Linked DNA regions of Homo sapiens: region 2 is linked to region 1. The links come from fine-mapping of genetic effects on gene expression. A gene starts in region 1. The other region holds a variant in brackets. All regions are shown on one strand. Distances are between the middles of the regions.

Evidence for each region.
Region 2: its variant is fine-mapped to the expression of EXOC4 in lung (TOPMed, PIP above 0.99). The same link has a PIP of 0.9 or more in thyroid and whole blood.

What each region holds. Positions count from the first base shown.
Region 1 is chr7:133,247,837-133,256,167 of GRCh38, forward strand. EXOC4 (exocyst complex component 4) reads left to right here and starts at 5,242. Exons shown (of 18, transcript NM_021807.4): 1 at 5,242-5,351. The coding sequence starts at 5,266. RefSeq lists enhancers at 5,009-5,058, 5,269-5,328.
Region 2 is chr7:134,061,947-134,070,284 of GRCh38, forward strand. EXOC4 (exocyst complex component 4) reads left to right here. Exons shown (of 18, transcript NM_021807.4): 18 at 2,345-3,815. The coding sequence ends at 2,582. Among named protein-coding and RNA genes, the nearest start is that of LRGUK, 61 kb to the right of the region's middle. The variant G/C (reference allele first, on the strand shown) is at 3,114.

The DNA.
Region 1 (8,331 bases):
GAAGTACTTTTGTGTATTTCTGCTTATAAAAAGCAACACCTGGAAATTTTTTTTTTTTTTTTTTTTTTTTTTAGATGGAGTCTCCTTCTGTCACCCAGGCTGGAGTGCAGTGGCACAATCTTGGCTGACTGCAACATCCGCCTCCCTGGTTCAAGCAATTCTCCTGCCTCAGCCCCCAGAGCAGCTGGGATTACAGGAGCTTGCCAACACGCCCCACTAGTTTTTATGTTTTTAGTAGAGACGGGGTTTTGCCATGTTGGCCAGGCTGGTCTCGAACTCCTAACCTCAGGTGATCCACCTGCCTCGGCCTCCCAAAGTGCTGGGATTACAGGCATGAGCCACTGTGCCCATCCCGGAAACTTTGTAAAACACAGAAAAGTGTAAAAAAAAAAAAAAAAATTACCCATGTTATTGACGCTCAAAACAACTTTGCAATAACCCCAGAGATGTATTTTCAACAAAATTAGTACCATACTTTAGTAATAATAGCTGATATTTACCAAGTGCTGATAATGTATATCTCACATATTCTTACAATAACTCTCTATGTGAAGTACAATGACCACCTGCTTTACAGATAAAGAAACTGAGGCAGAGTAAAGTTAAGTAACTTGTCCTAGGTAATCTAGCCAGGAAGTGGAAAGCTGGGATTGAATCTAGGCCATCCTGCTACACAAACTGCATTTTTTTTTAAGGTGTGGTGAAAAACACATAACATAAAATTTATGACTTTTGACTACTTTAAAGTTTATAATTTACTGACCTTTAATACATTCACAAGCTATGCAACCATTGACTGTAGTTCCAGAACATTTCATCACTCCAAAATGAAACTCTGTATCCATTGAGCAGTCATTCCTCATTTCTTCCTGCCCTGCAGCCCTTGGCAACCACTGATCTGCTTTCTGTCTCTATGAATTTGTCTGTTCTGGATATTTCAGATAAATGGGGTTATACACAATATGGCCTTTTGTGTCTGGCTTTTTTCTGTTAGCATGATTTCAAGATTTATCAATATTGTAGCATATATCAGTACTTTTTTCATTTTTATGTGTGAATAATATTACATTGTATGGATATAGCACATTTTGTTTATACCACACTGATACAGTCATATTGTTGCAGTTCATTCATTGTTAAACATTTGGACTGCTTCCACCTTTAGGCTATTTTGAATGGTGCTTTTATGAATGTTTGTATACAAGTTATTTTCCGAACACTTGTTTTCAATTCTCTTGTGCATATACCTATGAGCGGAATTGCTGGGTCATATGGTAACTTTATGTTTAGTTTTTTAAGGAACCACCAAATTGTTTTCTGCAATGGCTGAACCATTTCACATTCCCAAAATAAATGTACAAGGGTTCCAGTTTCTCCACATACTTGCCAACATTTATTTTCCATTAAAAAAATTGTAACCAACCTAGTGGGTGTGAAGTGGTATCTCATTATGGTTTTGCATTTTCCTATAATGATTAATGATGTCGAGCATCTTTTTATGTGCTTTTTGGCCATTTGTGTATCTTCTTTGGAGAAATGTCTATTCACATCCATTGCCTAGGTTTTAATTTTTATTTCCTTTTGTGTTGAGTTGTAAGAGTTCTTCACATAGTCTAGATACAGAACTCTTACCAGATACTGTATGTGATTTGCTTTTATTCTCTCCCATCCTGTGCCTGTCTTTTCACTTTCTTGAAAAGTGTACTTTGATGTATGAGGGTTTTTAATTTTAATAAAGCCCAATATACCTATTTTTTCTTTTGTTGCTTATGCTTTTGATGTCATAGCTAAGAATCATGAAAATTTACCCTTGTATTTTGTTCTAAGAGTTTTATCTCATATTTAGGTCTTTGATCCACTTTTAGTTAATTTTTGCATATTGTATGAGGTAGGGTCCATCTTCACTTTTTTGCTTATGCTTATCCAGTTTTCAACACCATCTATTGAGGAGACTATTCTTTCCTTATTGAATGGTACTGTCAGCTTTGTTGAAAATCAATTGACTGTTTGGGTGCGGTGGGTCATGCCTGTAATCCCAGCACTTTGGGAGGCTGAGGTGGGCAGATCACCTGAGGTCAGGAGTTCAAGAACAGCCTGGCCAACATGGCAAAACCCCGTGTCTACTACTTGGAAGGCTGAGGCACAAGAATTGCTTGAACCTGGGAGTCAGAGGTTACAGTGAGCTGAGATTGAGCCACTGCACTCCAGCCTGGGTGACAGAAAGAGACTTCGTCTAAAAAAAAAAAAAAAGAAAATCAATTGATCATAGATGAATAGGCTTATTTCTGTATGGCTTATTCTACTATATTTATCTATGTGTTTATTTTTATGCAAGTACCATGCTATTTTGATTACTGCGGATTTTTAGTAAGTTTTGAAATCAGGAAGTGTGAGACCTCCACATTGATTTTTTTTTTTTTCCAAGATTGCTTTGGCTATTTGGGGCTCTTTTAATTTCCGTATGAATTTCAGGATCAGTTTTTCTGTTTCTGCACAAAAAGCCTAGTGAATTTTTATCGGAATTACATTGAATTTGTAGATAGCTTTGGGAGTTTGGCCATCTTAACAATATTGAGTTTTCCAACCCATGAACATGGATGTCTTTCCATTTATTTGAGTCTTCTTGTATTTCTTGCAGCAATGTTTTGTAGCTTTCAGTGTAGCAGTCTTTCACTTTCATGGCTAAGTTTATTCGTAGGCATTTTATTCTTTTTGCTGCTATTGGAAATGGAATTGTTGTGTAAATTTCCTTTTTGGATAGTTTATTGCCAGTTTACAGAAATACCACTGATTTTCTGTTGCTATTGATTTTGTATTCTGCAACTTTGCTGAATATTTTATTAGCTCTAATAGTTTTTTGTGTGTATTCTCTAGGATATTCTATATATAAGATCATATCATCCAAAAATAGATATTGTTTTATTTCTTCCTTTCCAATCTGGATGACTTATTCATGTTCTTGCCTCATTGCTCTGGCTATAACTTGCAGTACTTTGTTGAATAGAAGTGGCAAAAAAATGGTTATCCTTTTTTTGTGTCTAATATTAGTGGGAAGGCTTTCAGTTTTTCATCGACTATGATGATTGCTGTGGGTTGTTCATAAGTACCCTTTATAGCCTATAAGAAGTTCCCTTTTATCCCTAGTTTTCTGAGTGTTTTTATTGTAAGAGTGTTTTGGATTTTGACAAAGCTTTTTTCTGCAACAGTTGAGATGATCACACACTTTTTATCCTATGTCCTACATTCTTTTTTTTTTTTTTTTTTTTTTTTGAGACAGAGTCTTGCTCTGTCGCCCAGGCTGGAGTGCAGTGGCGCGATCTCGACTCACTGCAAGCTCCACCTCCCGGGTTCACGCCATTCTCCTGACTCAGGCTCCCGAGTAGCTGGGACTACAGGCGCCCGCCAACACGCCCGGCTAATTTTTTGTATTTTTTTTTAGTAGATACAGGGTTTCACCGTGTTAGCCAGGATGGTCTTGATCTCCTGACCTCGTGATCCGCCCGCCTCGGCCTCCCAAAGTGCTGGGATTACAGGCATGAGCCACCCGGCGCCCGGCCTGTCCTGCATTCTTAACCACTAGGCCCAACTGCCTCTCCCTTTCTCTATGAATTATTTAATTTTATAGCCCAGTTTTTGTACTTATACCATAAAAATCTTTTTTTTTTTTTTTTTTTTGAGACAGAGTTTCCCTCTGTTGCCCAGGCTGGCGTGCAGTGTGCAGTGGAACGATCTTGGCTCACTGCAGCCTCCGCCTTCTAGGTTCAAGCAATTCTCATGCCTCAGCCTCCCAAGCAGCTGGGATTACAGGCACACACCACCACGGTCCGGCTAACTTTTGCATTTTTAGTAGAGACGGAGTTTCACCATGTTGGCCAGGCTTGTCTTAAACTCCTGGCCTCAAGTGGTCTGCTCGGCTCTGCCTCTCAAAAAGTGTTGGGATTACAGGTGTGAGCCATCACACTTGGCCCAAAAATCTTATTTTCTTTAAAAGCCATTAAAATTATGATTTCCAGAAGCTATATGTTATTTCCTCATTTGAATGTTACATAATTTATTTAATTCTTCTGTGTTATTTAAAAAATGTCAATACTCTATATTTCTTTAGGAACAAAGTCCCTAGAACTGGAATTATTGGGCCAAAGGTTATGAATACTTTTAAGTTATCGTGTGTGTGTGTGTGTGTGTGTTATCTTCAACTAATTTTTAAAAATGTGAACTTCTACCAGCTCGATGTCTATTTAATAAAAGTAATTGATGTGTTCTGAGCTTGCTGCTCACAACTCCATGACCTCTGAGTTAGTTTGCTTTCTATTCCTTTAAGTTCTTCAATCTTTATTGCTACTGAGCAGGCCACCTCCTTCCTTACTTTTAAATTATTATTATTCTTGTTCCTCAGTCTAACCACTTTCCACGCACATTCTGGTCTTTTTTGTTTTGTTTTGTTCATTTGGTCTTATGAATTAATGACTAAGCCAACGGAACCAAATGCAGGAAATACTAAAAACTTACCGGTAAAAGTATTAACACAAATGTGCATTACTACTAAGTATTTCATTTAGCTTGAAAAAAAAAAAAAAGGAATCTGCAGTGTGGTCTGTTTGTTTTTAGCTTATACTGTCTTTTCTTCATCAATATTCATTTATTCCTGTACGTGTGGTTTTAGAACTATCTGGAAATATAGGAACATTGGGAAAAATTGAACTCCACATAAACCTAATGTAGAAACATTAGTTTTACAGAATACTAAAGAAAAGCATTTCTGCTTATATTCATTTTCGTATTTTATTGGATTTTTTAAAAAATCACTTGCACTTAAGGCAAAAACTTCGCACATAGACATCCGGCAGAGAACCCCTCTTTCATTTAAATACAAACCCTAACACATTTTGGCATCATCAGATAAATTTGATTTAAAGCCTGACAAAATTCTAAAAGCAAGGAAACTGAAAAAAGCTGGAAGTCAGAATAAAGATAAATGAAGACACTCATTACAAGACTTAGGAAGTTGCAGCTGGTTTAGCTTTCCTGCGCGCCCAGGAGACGGAGAAGGAAAACTACGACTCCCAGAGTGCTTAGAGAGAACACGCGCGTCGTGGCCTCAAAACTTGCTCCCTTAGTCCCGCCTCCTCACTTCAGTGATTGGATTTTCCACTTCCGCGCCTCTGGAATTCTCTTCACCCATTGGTGGAGACTCCTGCGGGGTCAAATACAGAATTTACGCACCCTTGGCTTCCTTGGAGCCTAGCGGCTCTCCCCGCGTCCAAGATGGCGGCAGAAGCAGCTGGTGGGAAATACAGAAGCACAGTCAGCAAAAGCAAAGACCCCTCGGGGCTGCTCATCTCTGTGATCAGGTGAGGGAGGCAGGAGGCAGGGTCTGGGGACTGGGGGCAGCGGCTCGACCTCCGCTTTGGAAGGGAGAAGGGTTAGCTGGGTCCCACCCTGCTCTCCCCTTTCCTCCTTGCCTCCCGCAGCCCCTCCCCAGGGCTCTAACCCCTCCCCAGGGCCCCAGCAATTCCCCCTCCACCTTTTTTTTCTGGGGTTAGCTATAGAGAGAGGAGCCCCGCCTCAGTCTTTTCTTTAGGGGCAGCACCTTCTATTACAGTCTCGGGACCCCAAAGCACGCTATTTGGGTTTGGTAGAGAAAACCAGGTGTAAAGGTGTGTTTATTGATTCCTAAAATGCTTGTTTATTGTTTGCCTGTAGCAGCACTCACTGAGAAAGGCGTCTTGTTTCCTGGACTTTGGGGTGTAAGGCCTTGGAGTCCGGAGATTCCTGTCACGAGTTGCAGATTTGTGTTTTCACACTCTGGATACTTTCAACCACCTGTGCGTGGCCACAGCCACAAATACAAGAATCTGCAGTGAGCTGGTAGGAGGACTGGGTTTGAAGGCACACATCGGTTTTCAATTTTTTGCCCTGCCTCCGCATTCTGGTCCATTCCTTAAAAAACAGAACCAAACCAATTTCAAATTATCCTCCATGCACTGCCCCTCTGCACCTCCCAGAAGATTAGGGTGGGGGTGGAGTGGGAGCGGTGGATCTTTTAGGAGCTTTTTTTTAAAAAAGCGAAATATATTGAGGATGGGGGAACCCTTTCAAGAATCTTGGATATGATGCAGGTACTGACTAAAACCAATCTAAATAAAATTTATTATGGCACGTTTTTTACGTTGTTGGCATTTGAATTTCAACTCGTTTATTTTTCATAAACAAACACTCTATTTTTCCCCACCTATACTAAACTTTTGTTTGAGTTCTTGCAAGTTTTCTGGAATGTATTGATCATCTTTTCAAAACCCAGGGCCCAACATTATCTGGTAGGTACTAAGCACTTCAATGAATGCATGTATCAAACCATTAGAACAGCTTACCACTCACTGACAAAGACACATCTTATGGGTCTTATTTAGGAGGCTTTAAGATTATGGCCTATTAAATCATTACTTTAATTTTCTTTTGGGCTTAAGAGAAAAACATCTCTGTGTGGAAATGCTTAATATACTTGGTAGGCCATACAGAGGAAGTGCTGTTGTATTGTGAATCTATAGGCCCACATTCTCGCTGTGACAATACGCAGGTAGTGTAGATGTATCTCATGATACTAAAATTCCAATAAGAATGTTTGTTGTTTCCCATCTGAATTTCCTGTGGAATTAGAATACCAGGACATTATTTGGATCCTTTTTTGAACTTGTTTGTTTTTTCTACCTTATAGTCAACATTTATTTAAACAATAGGTATTTAGTGCCAGTTGACAGTATGGCGTCTGGCACGTATTACATATTGAATAATATTTGTTGACTTAATGAGTAAATGCCCTGAGTTTTGCAAAGATGAAGCAGGCACAGTGTTACCCTTGAGGAGAGTATAGTTTACCTGGGGGATAAAACATGTCAGTAAAAATGATGACATAAGACTACGAGAGAGACATGAAATGTTATGGAAATCCAGGAGGAGTGGCTGTTTCTAATGAAAGTGAAATGTGTCATCTCATCTGTGTACTTTTGATTCTCCAGGCTGTTCCCATTTCTTTTATGCTATTTGTATTTTCCTCAGGGCCAGTTGAATTTACTCTAAATGTCATATTTTTGAAAACAGCATGAAAGCCAACCTAAAGCTTTTTTTACTAATGCTAATTCAGAACATACATTGCCTTTGCTTGACCATTCCTTAATATTCTCCAGGAGGAACCCCCTACTGCTTGATGGCTAAGATTTTGTGGTTATCCATCCATCTCTTATGCCAGTTTATTAATATATGACCTTCATTTTATCACTGTGATTTAGGCCTAGGTATTTTTTACTTTGATCTCTGTTGTGCATTATATTGCTTTTCTTTTCTTTTCTTTTCTTTTTTTTTGAGACAGAGTCTTGCTCTGTCCCCAGGCTGGAGTGCAGTGGCGCGATCTCGGCTCACTGCAACCTCCGCCTCCCAGGTTCAAGTGATTCTTCTGCTTCAGCTTCCCGCATAGCTGGGATTATAGGCGTGCGCCACCACACCCACCTAATTTTTGTATTTTTGGTAGATACAGGGTTTCACCATATTGGCCAGGATGGTCTCGATCGCTTGACCTTGTTGTCTGCCTGCCTTGGCCTCCCAAAATGCTGGGATTACAGGCATGAACCACCGTGCCCAGCCCTCATTTTTCTACTTTATCCTTGACCACCTCAGATCACTGCATAACACTTTTGTGATATAGTTTTTACAAGCATGGTGTAAGGGAATGTCTAGACCTAGTATCCTGGGCAAGTTTATTAAGGCTTGGGATGCATTGTTATATATGACCTTAAGACCGAATGGTGTTGGTGTTTGTATTTCAACATTTCTTTGAGTCACAGGGAGATTTTGGTGTTGGAGTGAGGATGTTGGTAGCTATAACTTCCTGTTATTTCCTTCCTAATATGCTTTTGAACATACCCAGTGGTTTAAATTTTATAAACAGTGGTAGTGAATGAGAGGACAATGGAAGTATTACTTTGGTGTTTGGGATGGGGAATGGGGGGAGAGTCCTGCGGGTAAGAGAACCAGGAATGTATGTTTCTTGTTAGTAAATTGTGCTGTCACTTGGAAGTTGCTTCTTGTATTTCTGTTCAATTTATGTCCTTTGTGTTTCCCTTCTTGCAACATTGTATTCATTATTCCTTTTTTTTTTTTTGAGACGTAGTCCTGGAGTCTCTCTCTGTCGCCCAGGCTGGAGTGCAGTGGCGCAATCTTGGCTCACTGCAAGCTCCGCCTTCCGGGTTCACACCATTCTCCTGCCTCAACCTCCCGAGTAGCTGGGACTACAGGCATGCGCCACCATACCCGACTAATGTTTTGTATTTTTAGTAG
Region 2 (8,338 bases), 810 kb after region 1:
TTCAAAAGATTTACTGATCTGGCACTGGGGTCTCACACCCCTGGAAGTGGAGTTTTATCTCCCCTTCTACCAAGTATTTCTGTCTATATTCAGGGTCACCCTGGACCAGTGATTGCTATGTGTCTGGTTCTGTGATGCCAAAATGAACACTCGTTTAAAACCACTATAGAAAATTAGCCCCCTGTACACAAGGATGCTGACTGATTTGCTTGCAGGAGAGCTTCATTAACTTACCAATCTACAAAGAGCACTTTCCATTTCTGCCACTATTTAGAGTATATTCACAAAAGATTATTCTCTCCCCTATTTTTAAAAGAGTGTGTTAGTTAGAAAAGGAGGCTTAGCAGGAGGAAAAGAAGCTAACCGTGTGAAAAGACACCACAACTCTTCCTGACCACATTCCCCTTGTACCAGCAATTCAATAAAACAGGCCTGAAATTATGGAGCTCCTAGAATGTATTTCTTACCACAAAGATAGCTTCATTTCCCCATAGGAGGTTCTTTTTTTCAAAATGTTCCTGATGAGAAAGAAACAAATTCACGGCCCTGAGTCTAATAATACAGGATTTCTGAGCCACTCATCCTGCTAGGTCTGGAAGATTGCTTCGTCTCCAAGAGTTGCCTTGAGTGCACTGCCTGGTTCTGTCCCCTCGATCTTGGCAAAGTTACCTTTCACGTCAGAGAGAAGTGAGTAACACTCTTCATTTTGCTGACAAGCTGTGATAAGCCTTCCTGGCTCAGAGTCTGTGTTGAACTTGACCTCCTGGGTAATTTGGAGTGGCCATGGAAGTCACAGCTTCAGAGTCCAGTAGACTGAGAGATAGCAGTGGCATAGTATTGGTTTAAAGAATGGTGAGTGGTCATCTTCTCCCCTTCCTGACTCCCACCTTCATCTTCCTGCTGCATTGAAGAATCCCTATAATGCATATTTCTATTACAGGCACAAGTCTTCCTCCACCAAAGGACAGAGCCAGGCCAATGGCCTTGCCGTTAAGTGGCTCTCAAGTCTCCTCTTTCTGCTAGAATTGTAACCAATGCCCTGCCAGACCATTCTGCGTTTGATTGTCACAGTAATCTTCCAGAAGCACAATTTTGAATGGCACCTCTGCTCTCTGGAAGAAGGAAGTCCTTTATTGGCTTAACTAGGTCTAAAATCATAGCCTGATGTTCAGAGGCTCTACCCTGTGGCTTCAAATGCCTCATCCCAGGACTCTCTGCTATTGCTCTGCACTCCCCAGTCTAACCAGATTATTCTTCCATGCCTTTGCTCATGCTCTTCCCTCCAACTAGAATTTCTTTCCTGGAAGCCCTGCCTGACAGAATCTTACCCCACAGGAAGTCTTCCTCAGTCCCACACCATCCCCTCAGCATGGTGCGATTTCTCCTCCTCTGCTATTAACGCACGGTACTAGGACCTCACTTATGGCACACAGAATATTCTTGTGAGTTGTCAAGTGTCCGTGAAAAAACAGTCTTGAACTTAGAGTCAGAAACCTGGGGTCAGATCCTGGCATGGTCAGTCCCTGTCTTTGTGATGTGGGCAAGCCCTCTAACTTCTCTGTGCTTTCGTCTTTGTATCTGGGAAAAGGGAGGTGTAGCCCCTGGGTGGAGTGAGGGGTAAGTGGCACAGTGCTCGGGAATGAACTTGGTCAACAGCACTGGAATCCTTATGTCTCTGCTTTTCAGGACCTTTCCTCCTTGTCTCCGAGCTACTTGAGGAAAGGGGCTGTGTCTTGCCCATCCTTATATACTACTATTAATTTTATTACATTACTGTCACACATTAGCATCATTATAGTTCTAATAATAATAATCTTTATGAAGCACCACCATTCTGAGTGCTTTATACGTATTAATTAATTCAACTATTTCAATAACCCCAAGAGGTAGGTACTATTATTAACCCACTTTATGGAGCAGAAAACCATGTACAGTATTTTACAAAACCTCCAATGAATAATGAATGAATGAGGGATTGAATGAGACAAAACCTGTTAACAATGCCTTCTCTCCTTCTTCAGGCTATACCCCTACTTTTCTTTCCTTTCTCCCAAGGTAAATGCAAAATTAGCAAAAAAATGTAGAATGAGCTGAGCCACAGAAAGGTATGCGGCCTCCCTGGGTCCTCACTTAGACTTCTCCTGAAGAGAGCTCCCATGAGCTCCAAAGGACAGAGCTTATGGTTGTCCTGTTCTTTATTCTGTTGGTGGGGCCTAGAACACTGCCTGCTGATCAATCGTTATGAAGTAAGTAGAGGAATCAATGTATAGACAGCGTATTTGTCCCCTCGAGACGACGTTACCAGTGGGGAGCCAGTGAGCAGTGTTCTCTCTTGCTTTCTCAGGCAGTACTACGAGATGCTTTACAACACAGCTGACGAGCTCCTGAACCTGGTGGTGGACCAGGGTGTGAAGTACACGGAGCTGGAGTACATCCACGCTCTGACCCTGCTGCACCGCAGCCAGACTGGGGTGGGGGAACTGACCACCCAGAACACGAGGCTGCAGAGGCTCAAAGAGATCATCTGCGAGCAGGCTGCCATCAAGCAAGCCACCAAGGACAAGAAGATAACTACCGTTTAGCAGGGCGTACTGCGGTTGGTGACGGGGGTCCCCTCAGTCACACTCACTTTTTTCCTTGGTATGTTATTGAGTATATTCTGAGCTTAGTTTTCTCTACAGTGATACTTTAGTGGAGAGGAGGTGTAAGGATTCTTTCTCTCTGGTTTTGGCTTTTCATATAAATGCTAAAGGAAGGCGACAGTACAGAGTGTTTTGGTTGAACAACTACTTTAATGCAGTCAAATCTAACGGGACTAGGGTGGGATAGGGAGGAAGGTGGTATCAAATTGTTGGACTCTGAAAAACAAGTGGATGGATTACTAATATTTGATTTATTACTCAATATATATATAATTCCAGCCTTGGAAAGTAGGAAAGTAGGCTGCTACCTAACTTTTAGTCCCTTCCAAAACCATTTAGTAGGGTTCTATTACATAAACAGTAGGGTTTTTCCTCTCCTGACCTTATCCGTTTACAGTTCAATGAAATAAGTGTATGTGCATTGCTGTCTGTCTCTATTGCCAAAATCAAATAAATGGCTTCTCAGCTGCT[G/C]TTTACAACAAACTTCCCTAACCAAAACAGAACCTCTAATTTAGGGCTAGGAATAGAAGTCTTTTGATCCCAGTCCCTGGGACAGTTTTGTATGCTGTATCTTGTACACAGGTTGTAGGTTGGTTTATTGCCATTTTGTTTTATTTCTGCTGTATAAAAACCAAGAGCCAGACAATTAGACAACTATGGAGGAATGAAAGGCAATTCAAACATCTGCTTGATTCCCGCCCCGCCACCCCTAATTTCTGAGAGAATAATGGTTAGAGAACATTGCATCTCACTTGAAACATCCTTTGGGGGTAAATGATTCTTAGGTGCTCACTTGGTCTGAGCTCAGCTGAATGCAGGGAAGATGGGACAGAGTGACATTTCTCCTCTGTGCGGCCTCCAGCTGAGCCTGTCTCTGAATTGTTCCCTCCCCCGCAATGTGGGCACTTACCATGTTCCTGGCACACTGGACCTCACCATGTCCCCCGGTCACCAGTCCTCTTGCTGCCCATGGTTCATAGGTCATAGAAGGCAGCAATGCACTGACTGGGCCACATCTTGAAAACTCGTGGAAAGGGAAAGGGGAGGAGATGGGACTTTGACCACACACAGTGATGCCTCACACCCTGAAGGTGGGGGATTTTGTACCTGTTTGTACAACTTTGGTCTTGATGGGAAAAATGGAGAATTAAAAAGTGTTTTGAGAAGCTTAAATGTTTCATGTTATTTTTCTTGTGTTCTTTATTCAGCAAATATTCCCCAGAAGCCTAATATGTGCTCCATGCTACCACACACAAGGGCAAATGGATAGATGAAGAGGACACCCTTATTATCTAAGAGTGTGGGAACTGGACTGGAGCCAAAAATCCCAACAGCTCAAACTCAGGGCTGGGTCAGAATCAGGTCAGGCAGTGGGGCTGCCGGGAAGGGGATTCAGTGGGCAGCTGGAGGTTCCAGGGGATTCTGGTGGGAAAGAATGTAGTCAATCTGTCTGGCTCCAAGGGCCTGACTGGGAAGAAGTTGAATCTCTGTAGGAGACAACTGTGGAAAAACATACTGCCCTAAACGATATCATGAGAAATAGTCTACCCTAGAAGCAGGAGTGGAAGAAGGGGGGATGAGAGGAGATTAGGGTTGCCTAAGCTGCTGCTTCATGGCCGTGACCCCCAGCATTGATTCTGTACCTTTCCTTTTTCTTCCTGTCCACTCCAGGCGGAGAACCCGGAGTGGTGACAGTGATGGCAGCAGAGCCAGGGTGAGACTGAGAGTGCTCAGACTAATTTTCTTGGAAGTAGTGGAAAGCTCCGCTAAAAAAGAAACATGGGTTTGGATTGAGCAGAATGTCAAGAGCCCTGAGAACCAACCAAAAAATGGCAGATGAGCTGTTTCAGGGGCAACATTTAGGAAAGTGAAATCTCTGCTTTGCTTACAATGACGGGACTGAAAATGGCAATTCTGCACAGGAAAGGGACTGTGGGACTCTTCCAAGACATTTAGGACATCCAAGTTTCTTTGAAGGTTGGCACATCAGTCTTTATTCTTCCACAGGTAAAGAACAGCCAGTGACACACTCAGTGGGTGGTCAATGGCTACCTCACAACCTATATGCATTTGGGACACAGTGAAGATTTCCACATTTTGGTCCTACTTAGGAGTATTTTGTGAGGCTGTTGTGCTGTTTACAGCCTTGACCAACCAGAAAGTGCTAGAGAGAGCCAGGGTCTGCCAAGGACAGGGCCCACGAAACACATACACAGTTACGTAATGTTCTTGTGTGAAGACCTCTCCCTAAGTGTGCTATTGCAGATAAGAAGGCCAACAAAGGTCAGGCATGGTGGCTCACACCTGTAATCCCAGCACTTTGGGAGGCTGAGGCAGGCAGATCAGGAGGTCAGGAGTTCGAGACCAGCCTGGCCAACATAGTGAAACCCCATCTCTACTAAAAATACAAAAATTAGCTGGTGTGGTGGTGCACACCTGTAATCCCAGCTACTCAGGAGGCTGAGGCAGGAGAATCGCTTGAACCTGGGAGGTGGAAGTTGCAGTGAGCCCAGATCACACCATTGCACTCCAGCCTAGGCGACAGAGCGACACTCTGTCTCAAAAAAAAAAAAAAAAAAAAAAAAAGGCCAACGAAATACGCCTTACCAGAAGGGGTGCTGGAAACAAAGCAAACCGTTTTCTCATTCTTATACAGAGGTACAAATGGGAGGGATGTGTGGACTGCTGCCTGCATCACTAGTCACTGTGCCATGGAGTAGGCCCACGGGAGTAGGAGGGGTCCTGAGATGGGAAATCAACATGACCATGAAGAAGGAAGGCTTTGGAGTGATGTCATCCAACTTGGTTCTCAGAACAGCAGCTCCCAGAGAGCACTTCCTTCTAACACTGTTATCTACTCTCTGGTACTTAGCATGTGTTCCCATTTAGTCCTCACAGCAACCCTTATCATAAATATTACTTTCCTCTCTTCCATACCCAAGGGCCCAGAAACTACTGAAAGAATCTCTTTCAAGTTAGCCTTCGTTGGAATAAATTCCTTGAAAAAGAGGTAGTTCATCAGCTAGGACCCAACTCTTATATATATATATACACACACACACACACACACACACACACACACACACAGGCAATTGTGTTCTTGGAAGTGCTGGTGGTGGTTTCTTCTATATTTTTGGTTACTTTTAGCTATATATTATTGCCTGTCAGTATACCTTCCAATTTATAAATGAAACTACTCTTTGGGTGATATTGTGCCCCTTACCCCACAAGCACTTCTTTCTACCTGCTCTATTAATACAGGTTCTTTCAGGGTCTCTCATCCTAGGCGGTGTTTTTATTCCTACCTCACAGTAGGGCTTTGAAATCTTACTGCCCAACTAGAACATTTTCCCCCTCCACACTGATTTCATCCCAATAATTAGACAAGGATTGGTTCCTCAGGTTGCTCTTGCTGGTTAAGGACAAGTCCTGCTTCCAGGCTCTGAAAGACAAGTTTATTTTTTAGTATGTCCAGATCAGCTCAAGTTTAGTGGTAAGACCAGGCCTGAGCTGCTACAGCCCATACTCTTGAAACCCATCCTCTTGAAACTCTTGACACCACACTGGAAACCTTGTGAAAAGCCTCTGCTTTTCATGACCTTTCCTCCTTGTTTCTGACCTACTTGAGGAAAGGAGCTGATACAGTTTGGCTGTGTCCCCACCCAAATATCATCTTGAATTGCAGCTCCCATAATCCCACGTGTCAGGGGAGGGACCTGGTAGGAGGTTAATGAATCATGGGGGTGAGTTTTTCCAGTGCTGTTCACATGATAGTGAATTAGTGTCACAGCATCCAATGGTTTTATAAAGGGCAGTTCTCCCACACATTTCTCCTTGCCTACTGCCATGTAAGACGTGACTTTGCTCCTCCTTCACCTTTCGCCATGATTGTGAGGCCTCCCCAGCCATGTGGAACTGTGAGTCCATTAAACCTCTTTTTCATTATAAATTACCCAGTGTCAGGTATTTCTTCATAGCAGTATGAAAATGGACTAATATAGGGGCTGTATCTTGCCCATCCTTAGGTACTATTACTTCTATTACATTACTACTAATCTGGTGGGATCCTCTTCCAGCAGTTACTGCCCTCTGCAGAGTAACCCCATTCCAAGAAGCCCCACCCTCTCTCCAAGACTTTATTCTTGTCTGAATGTTTTCTGAGCCCGACGGTCCTTATTTATGTTTCAAATAGCTTGGGAGGAAAAACTCCAATACAGACAACTTGAATTGGCAACCAAACCCTAATGCTACTTACTGTCAAGTCATATCCGTGAATTTCGTAGCACTAATGCATTCATTCAGTCAGTCAAATAGAATTGCCTGTTACAGCTCAGGTTGATATGGGAGTCGGGCAATGACAGGCAAAAGAAACAGCCCCTTGTGACACAAAGCTTATACTTCCACTGGCTTCTTACAACTCCTCTCTGATCTACCCTTCCCAGAGTCCATATTTCCCCTCTCGATTCTCTGTGACCACCCTTTCATTTAGGAAGACAGCTCAAATTTCAGCCTGACTCTGTGCACTCTCTTCTGAGCTTTGCTTCTCTGGAAGCTTAGGACTCTCACGATCCACTGTGCCCCACTAGCTAGCACACCTAGCAGTTCACCCTTTACCAGTTCTTCTTCTTCTTCTCCTTCTTCTTCTCCTTATTCTCCTTATTCTCCTACTTCCTCCCTCCTCTTCTCCTCCTCCTTCTCCCCCTCATTCTCCTCCTCCTCCTTTCTTCCTTCTCCCCCTCCTTCTCCTCCTTCTCCTCCTCCTTCTCCTTCTTCCTCCTCCCTCTTCTCCTCCTTCTCCGCCTCTTCTCCCCCTACTTCTCCTTCCTCCTTCCTCCTCTTCTCCTCCTCCTTCTCCTGCTCCTCCTCCTTCTCCTTCCTCCTCCATCCTCTTCTCCTCCTTCTTCTCCTTTCTTCTTTCTTCTTCTTTGAGACAAGGTCTCACTCTGTTGCCCCGGCTGGAGTGCATTGGCACCATTTCAGCTCACTGCAACCTCTGCCTCCTGGGTTCAAGCGATTCTCACACCTCTGCCTCTCAAGTAGCTGGAACTACAGACCATGCCCAGATAATTTTTGTATTTTTAGTACAGATGGGATTTCACCATGTTGGCCAGGCTGGTCTCAAACCCCTGGGGCTCAGCCTCCCAAAGCGCTGGGACTACAGGCATGAGCCACCACACCTGGCCCCTTTACCATTTCTTGATGGAACTAATGGATTCCCACCCCACAGCCTTTATGAATGGACTGAGGCCATTGAATTCAGGATTCTTACTTTGGTGTGTAGCTGTGGCTGCCTCCCTAGGACCAGGGCACAGAAATTTCACAGTAACCAATGAGAGAGACCAGGGGCCAGCTCCAAGCCAGAGTCATTTCATTCAGGGCAGATGTGATCAGAAGACCAGCCAAGGGGCTGTCCCTCTAGCAGGATGTGAAAACAAGGAGAGTCCTGGTCAACACAATTTTGCTTGGAAAGCAAAGTGGGTGCTGAAATACCTACACCTGAGAGCGATTGTCTTAATGTGGCAGGAATGTAAAACAAATTGGACATAATTTGGAGGGAGGGTAATGAGGTACCACGAACAAGAAAACATAAAGAATCACTAGGCTCGGCAAGGTGTCAACCCTGTCCTAATTAGGCACAGTTGTTATAAGAAGTACATAATTAATAAGCGTGTGACCAGATGTGAAATACAGCAGAG